Linked DNA regions of Homo sapiens. The protein of the gene in region 1 binds, or shares a complex with, the protein of each later gene. Links are inferred from orthologs where the notes say so. Each region holds a gene or a part of one and is shown on either strand. Other genes may lie near its edges.

What was found. The genes of interacting proteins can lie anywhere in the genome.
Region 2: the proteins of PTP4A1 (region 1) and CNNM2 are in contact, whole or in part, in a crystal structure (PDB 5MMZ), measured with the Mus musculus proteins. The link is inferred for Homo sapiens from one-to-one orthologs. Residues at the interface, in NP_035330.1 of Mus musculus: Asp72, Gly73, Ala74, Gly107, Leu108, Gly109, Arg110, Arg137, Arg138, Gly139, Ala140, Phe141, Asn142, Lys144, Gln145; in NP_291047.2 of Mus musculus: Phe526, Asp528, Val551, Asn553, Glu556, Gly557, Asp558, Pro559, Phe560, Tyr561.

The regions. Positions count from the first base shown.
Region 1 is NC_000006.12:63,566,892-63,575,484, forward strand, and holds the start of PTP4A1 (protein tyrosine phosphatase type IVA 1), read left to right. Parts: upstream 1-5,588; 5' UTR 5,589-5,789; coding exon of another isoform or gene 5,790-6,539; exon of another isoform or gene 6,540-6,640; coding exon of another isoform or gene 6,641-6,677; exon of another isoform or gene 6,678-6,716; intron 6,717-8,593. Other genes in the region: uncharacterized LOC128125822, read left to right, coding at 5,790-5,828; translation initiation factor IF-2-like, read right to left, coding at 5,794-6,539, 6,641-6,677. UniProt on the Homo sapiens protein: Protein tyrosine phosphatase which stimulates progression from G1 into S phase during mitosis. May play a role in the development and maintenance of differentiating epithelial tissues.
Region 2 is NC_000010.11:103,082,099-103,089,691, reverse strand, and holds part of CNNM2 (metal transporter CNNM2), read right to left. Parts: 3' UTR 21-7,593; coding exon of another isoform or gene 1-20. Other genes in the region: NT5C2 (cytosolic purine 5'-nucleotidase), read left to right, coding at 1-20.

The sequences.
Region 1 (8,593 bases):
AAATCCTTTATCATTTCAACAATGCTTACGGCATCTTCACCAGCAGTAGATTCTATCTCAAGAAACCACTCTCTTTTCTCCTTCATAAGAAGCAACTCCTCATTCATTCAAGTTTGATCATAAAATTGCAGCGATTTAGTCAACTCTTCAGACTCTGTTTCTAACTCCAATTGTCTTGCTATTTTCACCATATTTGTAGTGATTTCCTCCACTGAAGTCTTGAACGCCCTCAAGGTCATCCATGAGAGTTGGAGTTAACTTCTTTCAAACTCCTGTTCATGCTGATACTTTTACCTCCTCTCATGAATGTTCTTAATGGCATCTAGAATCCTTTCCAGAATGTTTTTGGTTTACTTTGCTTAGATCCATCAGAGGAATCACCATCTACAGCAATTTATAACCTTATGAAATGTACTTGTTAAATATTAAAACCTGAAAGTCAAAATTATTCCTTGATCCATGGGTTGCAGAATGGATGCTGTGTTAGAAGGCATGAAAACAATATTACTCTCCTTGTACATCTCCATCAGAGCATTTCAGTGACCATGTGCATTGTCAAGGAGCAATAGTATTTTTAAATAAATCACGTTTTATCAGTAGGTCTCAACAGTGGACTTAAAATATTTAGTGAGCCATGCTAAACAGATGTGCTGTCAACCAGGTTTTGTTCTTCCACTTATAGAGCACAGCAGAGTAGATTTAGCATAATTTTTAAGGGTCCTAGGATTTTCAGAATGGTAAATGAACATCTGCTTCAACTTAAAGTCACCAGCCACATCAGCCCCTAACAAGAGAACTGCCTGTCCTTCGAAGCTTTGAAGCCAAGCATTGACTTCTATAGCTATGAAAGTCTTGGACAGCATCTTCTTCCAGTATAAGACTGTTTTGTCTACATTGAAAATCTGTTATTTAGTGTAGCCACCTTCATCAATGTTCTTGGCTAAATCTTCTCAATAACTTGCTGCAGCTTCTCCATCAGCACTTACTGCTTCACCTTTCATTTTTATGTTAGGGAGAGGGCTTCTACTCTTAAACCTCATGAATCCACCTCTGCTATCTTCAGACTTTTCTTCTACAACTTCCTCACCTCTCTCAGCCTTCATAAAAATGAAGAGAGTTAAGGCCTTGCTCTGAATTAGGCTTTGACTTAAGAGAATGCTGTGGCTGGTTTTCTATCCAGAACTCTAAAACTTTCTCCTTATCAACAATGAGGCTGTTTCACTTTCTTATCATTCCTGTGTTCACTGGAGTGGCACTTTTAACTTCCTTCAAGAGCTTTTCCTTGGCATTCACAACTTGACTGTTTTGGGTATGAGGCCTAGTTTTCGGCCTATCTCTGCTTTCAACTTGCCTTACTCAGCTTAATCATTTTTAGCTTTGATTTAAAGTGAGAGATGAATGACTCTTCCTTTCACTTGAACACTCAGAGGCCACTGTAGGGTTATTAATTGGCCTAATTTCAGTATTGCTGTGTCTCACTGAGGGACTGGCCCATCAGCGGAGCAGTCAGAATATATTCAACATTTATCAAATAAGTTTGCCATCTTAAATGGGTACAGTTTGTGGTGGCCCAAAACAATTCCAATAACAATATCAAAGATCACTGTTCACAAATTGCCATAACAAATGCAATAATAATTTAAAAGTTTGAAATATTGGGAGAATTACCAAGATGTAACACAGAGACATGAAATGAGCACATGCTATTGGAAAAATGGCTCTGATAGACTTGCTCGACAAAAAGCTGTCACAAACCATCATTTTGTTAAAAAAAAAAAACAATATTTGCAAAGCACAATAAATGAAGGTATGCCTGTATACTACATATTTATTTTTAATAATCATATAAGAAAATTAATTGGATATAAAATAGGCTGTTCTAAAACAGCAAGAGGGAAATAAACTTTAACAATGCTGACAGCAGCCATGGCATACTTGAATTTTTAGGACTCTTGTTAAATATGGGTATGGGAACTTACCCTCTGCACTAGTATCCAGACACTTACTAGATTATGGCCCATTGGGGTATTTGCCTCTATTACATATATTTGCTAGACTGTCATTATACCTTGCAATCTAGTGTCTTTTTCTAGGTTGATATTGTCACGTTTAATCTATTATGGCAATGATATTACTCTTGCTATGTTAAATGTTTTTATCAGACTTCCTTGTAGCCCCAACCAATCTGAGAAGATTGAAAATCAAGGAATCCTTCACTCCTTTTGTAAACTTGGTAAAATGGAATCAATGTTTACTAGATCTGCTGTTCTTGTGAAGATTTCTCTGTTCTTCTTCATCAAGATTTGCCAATCTTCCTCTGCACTCTTGCCTTCTGCAGTCTTTCCTCTTCCATAAAAATATCGCTTATAATATTCTTTTTTTGAAATGAAGTCTCACTCTGTCTCCCAGGCTAGAGTGCAGTGCCATGATCTCGGCTCACTGCAGCCTCTGCCTCCCAGCTTTCCAGTGATTCTCCTTCTTCAGCCTCCCAAGTAACTGGGATTAGAGGTGCCTGCCACCATGCCCAGCTAATTTTTTGTATTTTTAGTAGAGATGGGTTTCACCATGTTGACCAGGCTGGTCTTGAACTCCTAACTCCTAATCTCAGGTGATCCACCCACCTTGGTCTCCCAAAGTACTGGGATTACAGGCATGAGCCTGTATGCCACCATGCTCAACTTCCTTATAATATTCTTCTAGTCTTATTTCCCAACTGCTGGCTTTTATATTTTGAATTGTCAATAGAAAGCCCTGCCTATCGTGATGAGGTTAAGGACACATGTTTTGCTGAGAGAAGTAACTTCCAGCTGAGAATCTTGTTTAGCAGGAGAGAAAATCCTCTATTTTAGAGCCTCTCCTGGAGCTTAGAGTAAGCATTGGCTTTTAGAGGTGTTTTCTCCCTTTTTGATGTCTGGAAGCACTATTTTCAAGTCTGTTAGAGACCCACTTTAAATAAGTACAGGTGCTAATGCTCTGAGTGCAAGTCTGTAAGGGTTAGTGAGTCCTCAAATCACAGAAGTCTCCTGACCAATGCTGGGATGTTCTACTGTTCTCCAAGAATCTGCAGCTTAAAAGTATTAAACTAAATACAGCAGACACCCTCAGCATAGCAGTGAACCACAATGGCAGCTGACAAGCAGGAACATTTAATGGATTGGTCAGCAAGACCACACTTATATCTTGTTTAAAATGTGTCCTTTCCTTTGGGAGACTGAGGCAGGCAGATCTCTTGAGGTCAGGAGTTCAAAACTAGCCTAGTCAACATGGAGTTTTCTAAAAGTACAAACAAATTAGCCAGGTGTGGTGGCAGGTGGCTGTAATCCCAGCTACTTGGGAGGCTGAGGCAGGAGAATTGCTGGAACCCAGGAGGCTGAGGTTGCAGTGAGCAAAGATTGCACCACTGTGCTCCAACCTGGGCAAAAGAGCAAGACTCCATCTCAAATAAATACATAAAATAAAATGCATCGTTTCTCTCAACAGCAAAAGCCTTATTTTTTCATCCTTTAAATATGTTACTTTCATAGTAGGATAAGATGGTACCTTGTCTGAGAGGCTAAGACCCCCAGGCCACTTGAGAATTTGAGAGCTTTTAGAACTTGATGAGCATAGCTGACTGGATACTTCGTGTCAGCACTGCTTGTGGTAATTACAGGATCTGTGGATCACAAGGCTCACAACTTGTATCACAAGTTCTACAAGAAAATTGGCTAACACATATTTGGCTCTGTTAATCATTTGCTGAGTTTATATCTTGTCCCACCAAATGTATTTTTTGAAATGCCATTACATGAAAAAGTTTCACTATTCCAATTATCTGTGTTTACCAACTTGTGGAGTAAGAGTGGCTGACTGAATATGTGCTTTTTAACTACACTATTATATACATTGGCCAAGCTTTTTATATTAACCCTACCCATGAAGTATCACCAATATTTCCCCCAGTGTGAAATTGACATTTGTCAAAAGCCTTTTGCCATATAAAAGTTTTTAGTTCTTATATATGAAATCTGTCCCTTTTTTTCGACATGAGTTCCCCAGCCTGCTTAGCTTTGCCCCTACCACCCAAGATTTTTAAGCTTTCTATATTTTCTTAGAATTTAAGATTTTAAAGTCTTTACTTTTTTAAATCATTTATTTGTAAAGGGACATATTTCTCAAGTGTGCTAGTTTTCCTTGATTTTAATGGATTAAAATGTGTCGTAGGTGAGCCATTTTCTTCCAAATGACGAAGAGTTTTTGTTCCTTTGAAAGTCTGGCCCAGGATTTTGTTTGTTTTTGTTTTTTTAAAGTTCTTATTTTACTTACAGAGTTAAGAAAGTTGAATAACTATACAACCAGTCTCTAAATAGAAGTTCTAATAAATCCTAAGATGTTGCAGGGCACTGAAAGAGGACAAAATTTGATCCCTAAAGCCCTCTCCAATCTCATACTCGGTGAAAATAACAAACAAAAGGCTTCAGTGTTAGTGGAAAACTGAGTTCTTAAAAAGCAGGTAAAGGTCCTGTTTGGTCCTTCTCCAGAGCTGAGGAGAAAGGGTTTTCAGATTATAAATAACAGAGGTGCCCTTGTATGGCACAGAATTGCGATAAGACTTTACTTCTTAGGGGCTTAAATAATGAAGTCAGTAAAAGAGGACTGAAAACGAACATAAAGAAGAGCTTTAGCTTTGACGCAAAGAATTACATCAGTGCTTGACAAAACCGAGGATTCTTAATTTCTAAAAACGCTTTCTTTAAGCACTTCCTAACCTTTCATTATCTGAGACAACATATCAAGTGAGCAGCAGTACAAAGGATGCATGTGATTTCGAAATGCCACAATTGAGCCAACTGCAGTTGCACGCGTACGTAGTATAGAGAGGTGTGATCAAAAAAAGAATATAGGGAGCATAGGGCTTCGTCTGCATCAAAAGATACTCTCCCCATCTTCTATAGCCTTAAGTTTTGCGAAGGTAAGTTTCTCCCCGCTTGAAAGCGCCCCCAGGGACAAGAATTCATCTTGACCAAGCCTAAGGCCGTGGCATGCAAGGTGTTGAGTCACCGGGTACAGCGGTCTTGCGACATAAATATTATTTGATGACGAAGGTACTCGGGGCCCAGGTGCCAAGGTAAACCACTGGCAAAGATGACCGTGGTTAAGGCAGTAGAAAGCAGGCTCGACACTGAGACGCGGTTCCAGCCCTAGAAGGATTGCATTTTACGATTCAGGCAAACTTCGAGTCTCCTCATGTGACATGTGTGCACTCCTGGACCGTTTTAATTATGAGAAACGTGGTTTGCAGCATGATTCCTTCCAGTCGATAAATCGGAATCTCTCTCGCTCCCACCCCTTCTTAACTTCAGGCTTCCTGCATCCCGGAGCACTCCCGGCAGCCCCTTCCCTCCCCCGCCCCGGGGATGCTCCGACTCGGCGCTTAGCCATTCATCAACCGGTTCACACCGGCGGCGGCCGCCGCGGAGTGACGTCCGGAGGGGGCGGGCCTCCGCCCCCGCCTGTCGGCTCCTGGCCCGCGGTTCCAGGCCGCGATTGGTGGCTGGAGGGTTGCACGTCGCGCCGGCTATAAAGGGGAGGGCTTGTGACGCAAGGGCGCCTCGGCGCGTGTATTGGCTCCTTCGGCTGCGGGCCGGCTCGGCTACGCGCTCTGCTCCGAGCCGCTCACTGCATGGTAGAGTCTGGTGCCCCCGCCGCCGCCTGCATCGCCGCCACCGCCGCTCCGCCACGACCACCGCCGCCTCCTGCCCTGCAGCCACCGCCACCGCCTGTGTCGCCGCCGCCTCGGGACCGGCTGTATGATTAGGCCACAATCTTCAATGAGTAAACATATTCCTGTGAGTAGCCGTCGCATCGTCGCCTCTCGGGCTGGGAATCCACGACCGGCCCCCCATCCCCGCTGTCGCCTTTGTTCGGAGCCCGGCGTCTCCTCCAGGTTGCCCCGGGTTGCGGTTCCGGTGGGTCCCGGGTGGGAGCGGGCGGGTTATGGCCCTGTGGCCGGCCGATTGCGGCCGGCTGTGCGGAGGCAGATGCCGGGCCCCTCGGGGCTGCGGGGTGGCGGTTGGCCGCCGGAGGCACCGGCTTTTGAGTCCCTCCCGAGCCCGGAGCGACGGGGGCGGCGCGGTCCGGCTTCTGCGGCGGCCGGGGGCAGTTTCGGCTTCCGCAGCGGGCCGGGTGGGTGGCACAAAAGCCGCTTTGTGACCGCCGCCTCCGCCCTTGGCCCTTTGGTCTGGCGCGACCCGTCCGGGCATGGCAGGCTCCGCGGCGTCCCGGGGCCTCTTTGTTCGGCCGGAGGAGAGTGGCTGCACTGGGAGCGGGAGACGTGGCCCGGGGTGGGGCGAGGGCTGCGCGTGTCACTGCGGAGCCGGATACGGGGAGGGCGCGGCGGTGGCGGGTTCGCCTCCAGATCCGGGCGGGCGTGGGGTAGGCCGGACAGCCAGGCACGGGTGGTAACGATCTGGTTCCAGAGCTTCTCGGAGCTCCGGGGTGGGCGCGGGACAGCCACTGGGTGCAGCTACACTCTTGTGCTCGACGGCCGGGACCCGAGCCTCAGACAAAATGGCCTCGGCGCCCGCGCCTGACTGAAGGCGCGGCGCGAACCCGTGATTGCGGCGCGGAGAGGGGGCGCAGCGGGCGTGCTCGGGCGCACACAGCCGCGTGCGCGGGGCGGCGGCCCTCTGGGGCATTCCGCGAGCTGCACCCCTGCCCGGGCCAGAGTGGGGTTCTGCTAGGTGAGAACTTCGGCCGTCCGCCCCGCCCTCCTCCCAGGCTCCACCTGGTAATTCGAGCTGTTCCGGATTTATCGCCCCACCTCGGGCTCGTGATAATGGGAACAAGTCTAGTCTTGTCCTTTCTCTGGGCCAGTCGTCGAGAAATGGCCTGGTTCGGAGCGTCTTGGAAACTGACAGGGCTACTGTTAGTTACACTGACGCGAAGGACTTCCCGTCCGGGCACCAGCATACATTTCCCCTGCCAATTTTGGAAGGGCCCTGGATGGCGCCTTTTAATCGGGGACTGTTTAGAACTATCCCTGAGCTCTGTGGTGTAATATGTTGTTGCCTCCTGTTGGTTTGTGGCAGCAGTAGCCAACCAGAGACGGAATTCTGAGGGTTTTTTATCTTCTGTCCGCGGAGCCCCCTACCAGTCCACGAGTATTAAGTTATTTACACTACGATTGGAACTGTTGACCTGCCCGACATCTAGATCCTGAGGCAGTGCTTCCTGTTACTCAGTCAGTTGAAAACTAGAAAACTAAATCATTCCCAAGAGTGAGCAGCATTTTACACATGCTTTCTTAGGTGCCCTAAGACCTAAATAGATGTGGAACAGACTATACAACGAATTGTTTGTGACAAAGGAGTTACACACATTAATTGGCTTGACTCTGCAGTATAATAATGATTTAAGCTTCTGCACAGAGATTACTCTTTCCTCCTCTCCCTTCTTGTATATGATTGTGATTATAATGCAACTGATAGGTGGGAGGGAAAAAATCCCCATTATGGATAGTTTTTCCTGTGGGTAGGAGATTGGGAATGGAGGAGTGTCTTGGGCGGAACAGAAATCTATCGGTGGCCACCACTGCTTTAACAGACGAGTCCCCCCATCCACTAGGTGGCTCCACTCAGTAAAAATAACCATTTCAGGAAGGGAATTCTTAATATAGTTCTTTCTCTGCTTCCTGATGAAAGTGCTTACTTACATGAAGGGATATGGCCAGACTAGGTTGTAGCCGACAGGAGTTTTAGCTATTAAATATGGAAATAGTGGTGTGAAATACTGCCTCAAATTAGCTTTTAATTGAAAAAAAGGTAATACCTAGAAATTAGAATACTGTGATGAGTCATTATAAAGCTTTTAAAGATCATTGTATGTCATTGGGAAAGTGTCAGAATACACTTTTTATTCTACGGAGGTTGTATTTAGAATTTGGGGTGAAAGTATAATGAAATTATTTTCAGATTACTACAATCTGTATTCACTGTAACTGTGATGGCTTTGTAATTTAGACACTTAATTTTTTAACCCAGCTGACCAACTAGGTGAAGTAACCTCTGAGGGCTTGTTTGAACAAACTTGTGATAATGAAAGTTACCTTTTTTATGGGACCTTTTGATAAATGATTGTTAATGCTAGTTGTATGTTTTACCAGAAAAGTAGACTGGGTTTTTGACTTGATGTTTTCTGCAGTAATCATCATAAGAATTATTCTTCAAAATTTAGCAAAGTTCTAGAAACTATAACTAGCATGGGACTATTTAAAGGTGTAAAATGGAAATGGGAGCAGATCGTTTGAATTTTAATTTTAAGACTTCAAATGCTTAAATTTAAGCATGGAAACTAATGGAACCTTTTGTTAAAACACTTTGGTAATGAGAGTACACATGAAGTGCTTGAGGCAGTGACTATGAATTACTGCTCTTGTTAACCTGTTATTAATACTTTCCTTAGTGCCCTCTTTACTCCCGAGTACACAAGTACCTTATAAACTATTTGGAAGAAGACTGATTATTAACATCAGTGTCTTCCATGTACATATTTTAAAAATATGCTGTGACTATTGGTTTAATGTTTGATATTGGCATAAAAATGGTTTAGTTCT
Region 2 (7,593 bases), on another chromosome or scaffold:
AGGAGGAGGAGGAAGAATAAGGAGGAAAACCAAAACCCCAAGCACCCATTAAACAAGTCCTGGCAGGACTCACAGGAACAAACGAGGTCCCTGTTAGGGTTCTACTCGGGGGAGGGAGGGGGCTCCATGAAAGGTACGTCTGAAAAGTTTCTGAAGATTTTATTATCATAGATACTTGTTTTGGTTTTGTGTATCTGTACTCTCTGCAGATGGTCCAAAATTGTAATGGAGTCTGTATTAGAAGAAAATAAGGGTAAAATCAGGCTGAACTGCATGTATATGGCTCCACTGTGGCTTGTGACACTTTTAAAATCATCCGTATGTCAGTGTATCTGGATACACGAGGAAAAGGAAAGAGTCTCAGAGTGGAACAAAGAGTGGGAAGAGGTGATCTGTAATGTTACAAATTGTGCTATTACTCCAAGGTCCAACTTTTCCAGTGCATTACATGGTATTGTATATCAGTGGAGAAATGTATTATTTCCATGATCAAATGTAGTCTCTGTTAAGGTCAAGTTTTCTTTTATAAGCCTTTAATTCATCCTCAGTGACTCTGGCAAGGCTGCTTCTCTATCACTGGCTTTGCACAGAAGTATGCTCTACTTGCGTTGCTTTAGGGCAGGATTCTATTTTGAGGGAAAAGACAGTATCCTTATTACCTTTTGTTTGTTTAATAGCACAAATGCTTATTTGTTATCCAAAAACAACCTCCTTCTTATCTGTGATAAATCTATAGAAAGAATTTAGCTGCAAGTGGACAAAGGAACAAGCCCCCAGAAAAGAAAGGGAAGAACTGCCTTCTTATACTACAGAACATGCATTAGTGTGGGCTATATAGCTGTGGCTCATGCTACCCAATTCCAGATTTCTTTGTCCTCTAAGAGTTGATTGCTGTATATTAAAATTGAACATCAGAGGATGGGAAGAGGGCTCTGTAAGCCAGAACCTTACTAAAGTAGAGGGCACAATCAGTGTGAATAAATTCACTTCAGAATCTCAAGTCAAGGCCAGGCACGGCGGCTCACGCCTGTAATCCCAGCACTTTGGGAGGCCGAGACAGGCGGATCACCTGAGGTCGGGAGTTCGAGACCAGCCTTACCAACATGGAGAAACCCCATCTCTACTAAAAATACAAAATTACCTGGGCGTGGTGGTGCATGCCTGTAATCCCATCATCTACTCAGGAGGCTGAGGCAGGAGAATTGCTTGAACCCAGGAGGCGGAGGTTGCAGTGAGCCAGGATTGTGCCATTGCACTCCAGCCTGGGCAACAAGAACAAAACTCCATCTCAAAAAATAAAAATCCCAATCCCAAGTCGAAATCACCTCTTGTTTTAAACAAGAATGAATCATTACTGTGTATGTTAGGGTATTAAAACTGTTTCACCAGTACAGTGAAAGTTGTTTCAACATTTTAAACAAACAGTGGTTATAGACTCTTTCTTTAACCATTGTATATTTTCTTCCATTCTTGTCATTGGTCAATAGGGGAGGGTAGATTAGCTGCTCCAGAATTCAATAAAGTGTAATATTTCTAACGGTGACTTTGACCTATTCTGTAGTACAACTGTAATAGCTATTGGTCTTCAAGTGGGTTTAGATTTGGTGACATCAGTTTGATATTCTCTTAAAGGAAATAAATATTCAAGAACTGATTATGTTCTAACATGATTATATTCATGGTGTTACATAGGCCTCAATTTTTTCACAGAAAGATTTTTGGAACAGGACTGTGAAGTGAGGCTTTTTAAAAAATTATTTTATAAGCAGAGAACACAGCCTGATAACTTAGTCAAGGATATACTGTCTGTCTCACTACTTTGGACTTATATGGCTTCAGATTAAGTCATCCAAGAAACATACATACATTCTAAATGGTATATATTGGGAATATATGCCCCTTTAAAAGAATCAGGTCAGAAATGCAATAACAATTAGACTAGACTGTTGCCCGTGTTAGGAGAATGTGTGGTCATCCTAGTTACTAATTACTCTCACTCAAGATGGAGATGTTGTCCAGTTTAACATAGTCTTAAGTTTTCTTAAACCCAAATAATTTATGAGTAGCTTATTACATCTGCAGAGCTACCTTATTATAATAGTACATTTACATATTGTCTCTTTTAGAGTAAGGACCACATGATTGCTTTGCTTTAATTTACCACTTTTTGTATTGCATCCATATAAGAGTGTCTTACTAGCCAGATGATTCCATGGCAAATGATTCTCTGGGTCCAAAGATCGGAAAGTGAAAAGCACACAGCTGGAATAAGCAACAACTCCACTGCTAGTTACAGCTCTCCGTAGGACCACCAAAACGTATTCAAGAGCTCTAGGATTCCATAAGACCCAGAGCAAAATGGTGCCTCTCTGTATATTATTCTTAAGAGTGTGCTGGGAAGTCAATGGTCCATGGGTAGGCAGGGCAGCTGTAACTGGGCTTTTTAAAACAAATTATGAGTTTTCTCTCTGTTGCCAGTAGTTAAGGAAGCTGAACTTAAAAGGTATACTTTTTTCCTTAAAAAAAAAAAAAAAAAAAAAAAAAAAAAAAATCCTGCGGAGTTTTATACCGTGAGAAGACCATTCTGCCACTTCTTTTGAGAATTTTTTCCCAGGCATTTTGAAAACACTATAGGCATTGTAGAACACCAGGCAACCCCTTCTTGGTTGCTAGACTGAACTCCCAACCTTACAGCATGTACTGACAGGTCCCCTAGCCTCCCCAGCAGTTGGTCAGTGGTACAGCAGACCCAGGCCCTGCTGGGTTTCCTTGGGCAGAGGAATTGCCCAGTACATTCATTCATCTCTGCAAAGATAGATAGTCAGTGAAAACTCTGATGGTGTACTTCAGAAAAGTTGGTCACAGCCAAGAAAGTTTAGGGTTCTATTTAGACCTAAGATTTTTCTCTTGCCATAAGCATACCTCTGCTGAGACCTAAAATAATAACGCAAACCCTTCAAGCTACCCTAAGATACTTTTAGAAGTCGTTTTTAATAGAACTACAAATCCTTAAGTCACATTAGCATTGTTAAGAAACCACTTTAAAAAGCCACATGCAGTTGCATGTCAGATTTAGAAGTATTTTGTCCATGTTTAGGTATTTCTAAATCAGATGTATTTATTTAAGAAATACTTTGTCAACAACTTTAAAGCCCAGCAATTTTTCCAAGGCTGCCTGGTCATTTTAAAATAAATACTCTGCTTATTCACCACGAATAGCCTGAGACAACTACATATTTAAGTCTGTATTAGGGTAGGAACCTTACCCACATTCCATGTTATGGAAACTATTTAATCTGTCTTTGATGGTGGGAAAAATGGTAACTATGATCTAGCTATTGCCATACAGTTAACGCTCCAATTCCTCACTGGGCTTAGTAGTTTAGGGCTCAAATACTTATGTTTCTCATGATGATCTTTAGTGGTGATCAGGGAATCCAGCTTTTCTTAAAAGTTTTTCCTCAAATAGAACAATTTCAAATGATACACAACTTTTGGGAGGCCCTGAGAGTGAAATCTCTACCATGGAGCTACCAGAGCAACCCTGCAGATAGAAGAAAAACATGCACTACTGCTAAGGAGCAGGGATGACCACAGGCACAGGCAACCAGAAAGCAGAAACAGGTGACTTCCAGAAACCCCCGCTGCCCCGTCACGCACCTCCCGTAACAAGAACGCAGCACGTCACACAGTTCTCGCGCTGCTAGGTATCTAGAAACAGCAGAAAGCAAGTCCTTTAAACAGGCAGCATGTTCATTTATAGAATGAGTAAAAAGCTTTTCTATTCTTTAACCTGGATTTCTCAACCATTTTTCCCTGTCCTCACACACAATGTCTTCATCCCAAGGCCACAACAGTCTGATTCATTCCAACAAAGGTATGTGATCTCAAAAATAAAATATATACAGAAGTTTCTCTGTAGAGCTTTAACACAAAAAAGTACTCCCCATTGAACACAAACATTTCATCTCAAACTTGCTGACTCTGTTTAAGGATGAGGAATCTATGTTTTCCAATTTAAATTTAAAACACAATGATGAATTTTGAATCTCGTCCCTTTGTTTCTTCACACAAAATAACTAGGTACAACTATGTCCCCAGATGTTCTGGTCTCCCATGGAGCTCTTCCCAAAGCCATGTCTGGCGAGGGGAGTAGACAAGGCCTGAGATAAACCTTCCCACACAAACTGGAGCCCAAGCAGCTGAGCACACATTTTTCCCACGAAAGGCAGCAATAGTCCTTCCACGTCTCACAAGTTCTTGAGATACTTGGAAAGAAGATTTGCCAAGCAAACCTTCCCCACACTGAAAAATGTTTACTCAGTGTCCAGTCTTTGAGAGAGTGTTCTCACCAGAGTTATCTTTGACTTGAGTGTGTGGGTATCTTTAAACAAGTCACTTTTTGGACCCACTGACCTCAAGTCAATGACTTAGTAGAACTGCAGTAGGAAAACTGGCCCCATCTAAAATTTCCTATCATGTGTTGGCCTCCTGTTTGAACACTGCACAGTCACTAATACCCTGACAGGAAAAGCACTTCAGAAGTCGGGCAACTAATTCTCCCTTAGAAACGTGCATCCTCAGTCCTCAGTAATCCACTAGGGGAGATGGCATGCCAGCAGAAAGTCAGAGAAAAGGGCCCTAGAACCATCCCTTTGTCCTGGGACTGCTTGAAAATAAGAGCACAGATATGAGGCCCTTGGAGGGAAAATGACAAAACCACCATACAAAGAAAGCAAAAGAGTTTATTATCCACCTAATAGAATTCAACTTTTTGGCTTTAATAAAGAATCATCTCTTTTAAATTACCTTCAAAAAGTATAAAATAAGTTTCCAGAAATCAACTCCAGGCTATAAAAAGGTCAGTTTTTAACCACTTTCTCTACAAGACCCTCTGATCAATATTTGTTTCCTCAGAAGTGCCGAGTTGAAAAACGGCTCTAGGGAGCACAATTTTTGTGAAATAGAAACCCCGGGTGCATCACGATAAAGCTTAGAAATGAGCGGATGTGTGCGCACTCTGAGGATGCAGGGGGGAGTTTTAGGCAAATCTCATCTTGACAGCAGGAAAAATTGCCTCCATTTTCCTTGGAGCATTTCCTGATTTGAGCTAAGGGCTCATCTAGACCAAGTGAGTAAAACAGGAAAAACAAACCAAGGCAGGAGGCTGGGAGTGAATGTGCTACCATGATTTCTTTCCCTAGCTCTGCTGCCACTTTCTGCCCTGCTTCTAATGAAAGCAAGCAGGGTTCGAAGACAGCATTTCACTGGGCTAAGATACACCTCATTCTACTTTCAGGTAGTTGGGCGATACCTGGGGAGATGGGAGCGGTAGTTAGGTCAGGCAGTGTCTGAAAGCCAATTCTGTCAGCAGTTCTTCCCTGAAATGTCTCCATCCACAGAACAAGTGTAAGTAAAAGACTGCAAATGCCACGGTTAAATAAATTCAGTGGAGACTATAAATGGACCAGTCAAGAGGCTAAATTTTCAGAGCACGATCCTCTTTGGAATGTAAAATAGAGACTAAAAGTGGAGAGAAAAGGGATTCCAAAAAGATGTGGTTTAGGAATGGATCACAGAGGGTCCCTGAAGCTCCACCGTAAGTTCTTCAGGGACTGGTCTCATGTGAGTGATGAGGGTAAGAAGGAACAGAAGACAAAGTAGTGATGGAAAAGAACGTGTATCATACACACCGATTACTGGGGAATGCAGGATATCCACTGAATCCTGAAGACCCACCTGCACACGCCTCGCCACACTCAGGCCGGATGTTTTCCACTTGAAAGTGACTATCCATGCCTGCTCCGACCTTCCTCCCAGGCTTAGCATAGCAGAGGAGGACCTATAAAGCCATCCTTGTTTTCAAGAGCCAATTGAGAGGCCTGAATGAGACCTTTGGTCTTACCTAGGAAATGCCGGCTTAGCCCAGCGGCACTGTGTGTTGTTATTAGTGACTGAGCAGCCAATGTCTGGGGCAATTTGACTGGATACTCCGAATGTTCTTATGTAGAGAGTAACTGATGGAGAACAGATTATAATCCTTGCAAAGAAGGACACCTTCCCCCTAGGATTGGCTGTACCAGGCTGTGACTTGGAGGCACAGAACTAGTACCCACTTCTCTTAAGACTTTACACTGTCCAAAGAAGATGCTCTTCTATGTTGTCATGCTGAGATCCAGTCCCAGCTTTCCCACCAGCAAAGCCAGGCAAGTGGGTAGGGCAGTTGGTTCAGCCAAGCTGAATACAATGGCATGGTTGGTGTTGCACAGATGAAAGGGAAGAGGGAACACACATCTGCTAGCAGGGTGAACAGAACATCATTTATCTAAATAGAATAGAAATAAACAAAAACCTTGTAAAACAATCACAAAATTTACAAATAAATTGGTACAAAATAAATAGGAGAGACTGTACATCTACATCATTTGAATTATAAAATGCATTCATTAAGACAATCAGCTCAATCCTATACATGTCATTTGTGCTTATTTAGGTTTATGTACACAGCTCTGAATACTGTGTTCAGAAAACTTCACTGCTCAAATGCATGACCTGTACACTATGATACAGTGAATAAAGGCTGAGGAGGATCAAAGTCAGACACAAAGCAGGGTCTTACTTGAGGGCCAAGGCAATGTTGGCACTGGGCCTCAAAACCAAGAAAAGGCATATTAAGAGCCCAGATAGGCAGGCAGCTTCCATTATCCAGAAAGATGGATTATGCAATCTAAGGTAAGTGGAAGAAACCATTATCACTGTGGGGCCAGGCAAGTGACCTGCCTTGGGAGGAGGGAGGCCGTGGACTCACAGCTGTACTGTACCCTACATAGGGGAAGAGAGCCTGTCACCAAGAAACCACCTTGGAAATATTTCATGGAGGTACTTGAGAGGCCCTGCCCACAAGGTAGGAGACCTGCCTCCATCCTCATCCAAAACACTGGTCATAAGGAATACAGGTGGGCCCAACTAAAGGGGCTGGGGATGCTAGGGCCAACATAAAAGCAGCAACCTGTTTATAAAAAACAACACTACCCTCTCACCCGCCTTAAAGGACAGCAGAACCCTAGGATCCATGGATGAGGAAGCTTCAAGACAGACCTTGTCCTAGTCACAGACGAAGTACTAACAGGCATATGTACATAATAAATAATATAAAATAAAGCATATACATTTGTGGGTTTAAAGGACTCAAACAAGAAAAAATTGATAACTTCACCTTCACAGTAGATTCAGACTTGGGGAGTAATGATCAGAAGCGAGGCTGGGGCTCTCTGGGGAATGAGAATCCTAAGACCTCATTCTTCCCAACTTTGCTCTGCTCTAGAAGTCTGAGCCTCCAACAAAAAAGGCAGGCACCCAAGCCCCACCAGGCCCATTGGATAGTTCTCTTCAGGGTGAATCTGCAGCCAAATCTGGCCCCCAAAGAACTGCATCCTAAAAGTGAATCCATGTGGATCAGATGCCGGAAGGCGTCCTTCCAAGCGAGGCAAGACAATGCTCCCATTCTTCTCATTTGTTCACGGTCCCAATGGGCATTAAAACCTGAAAACCTTGTGTACTCAAGTCTTTCTTACAGTATGTGTTGGATCTGTG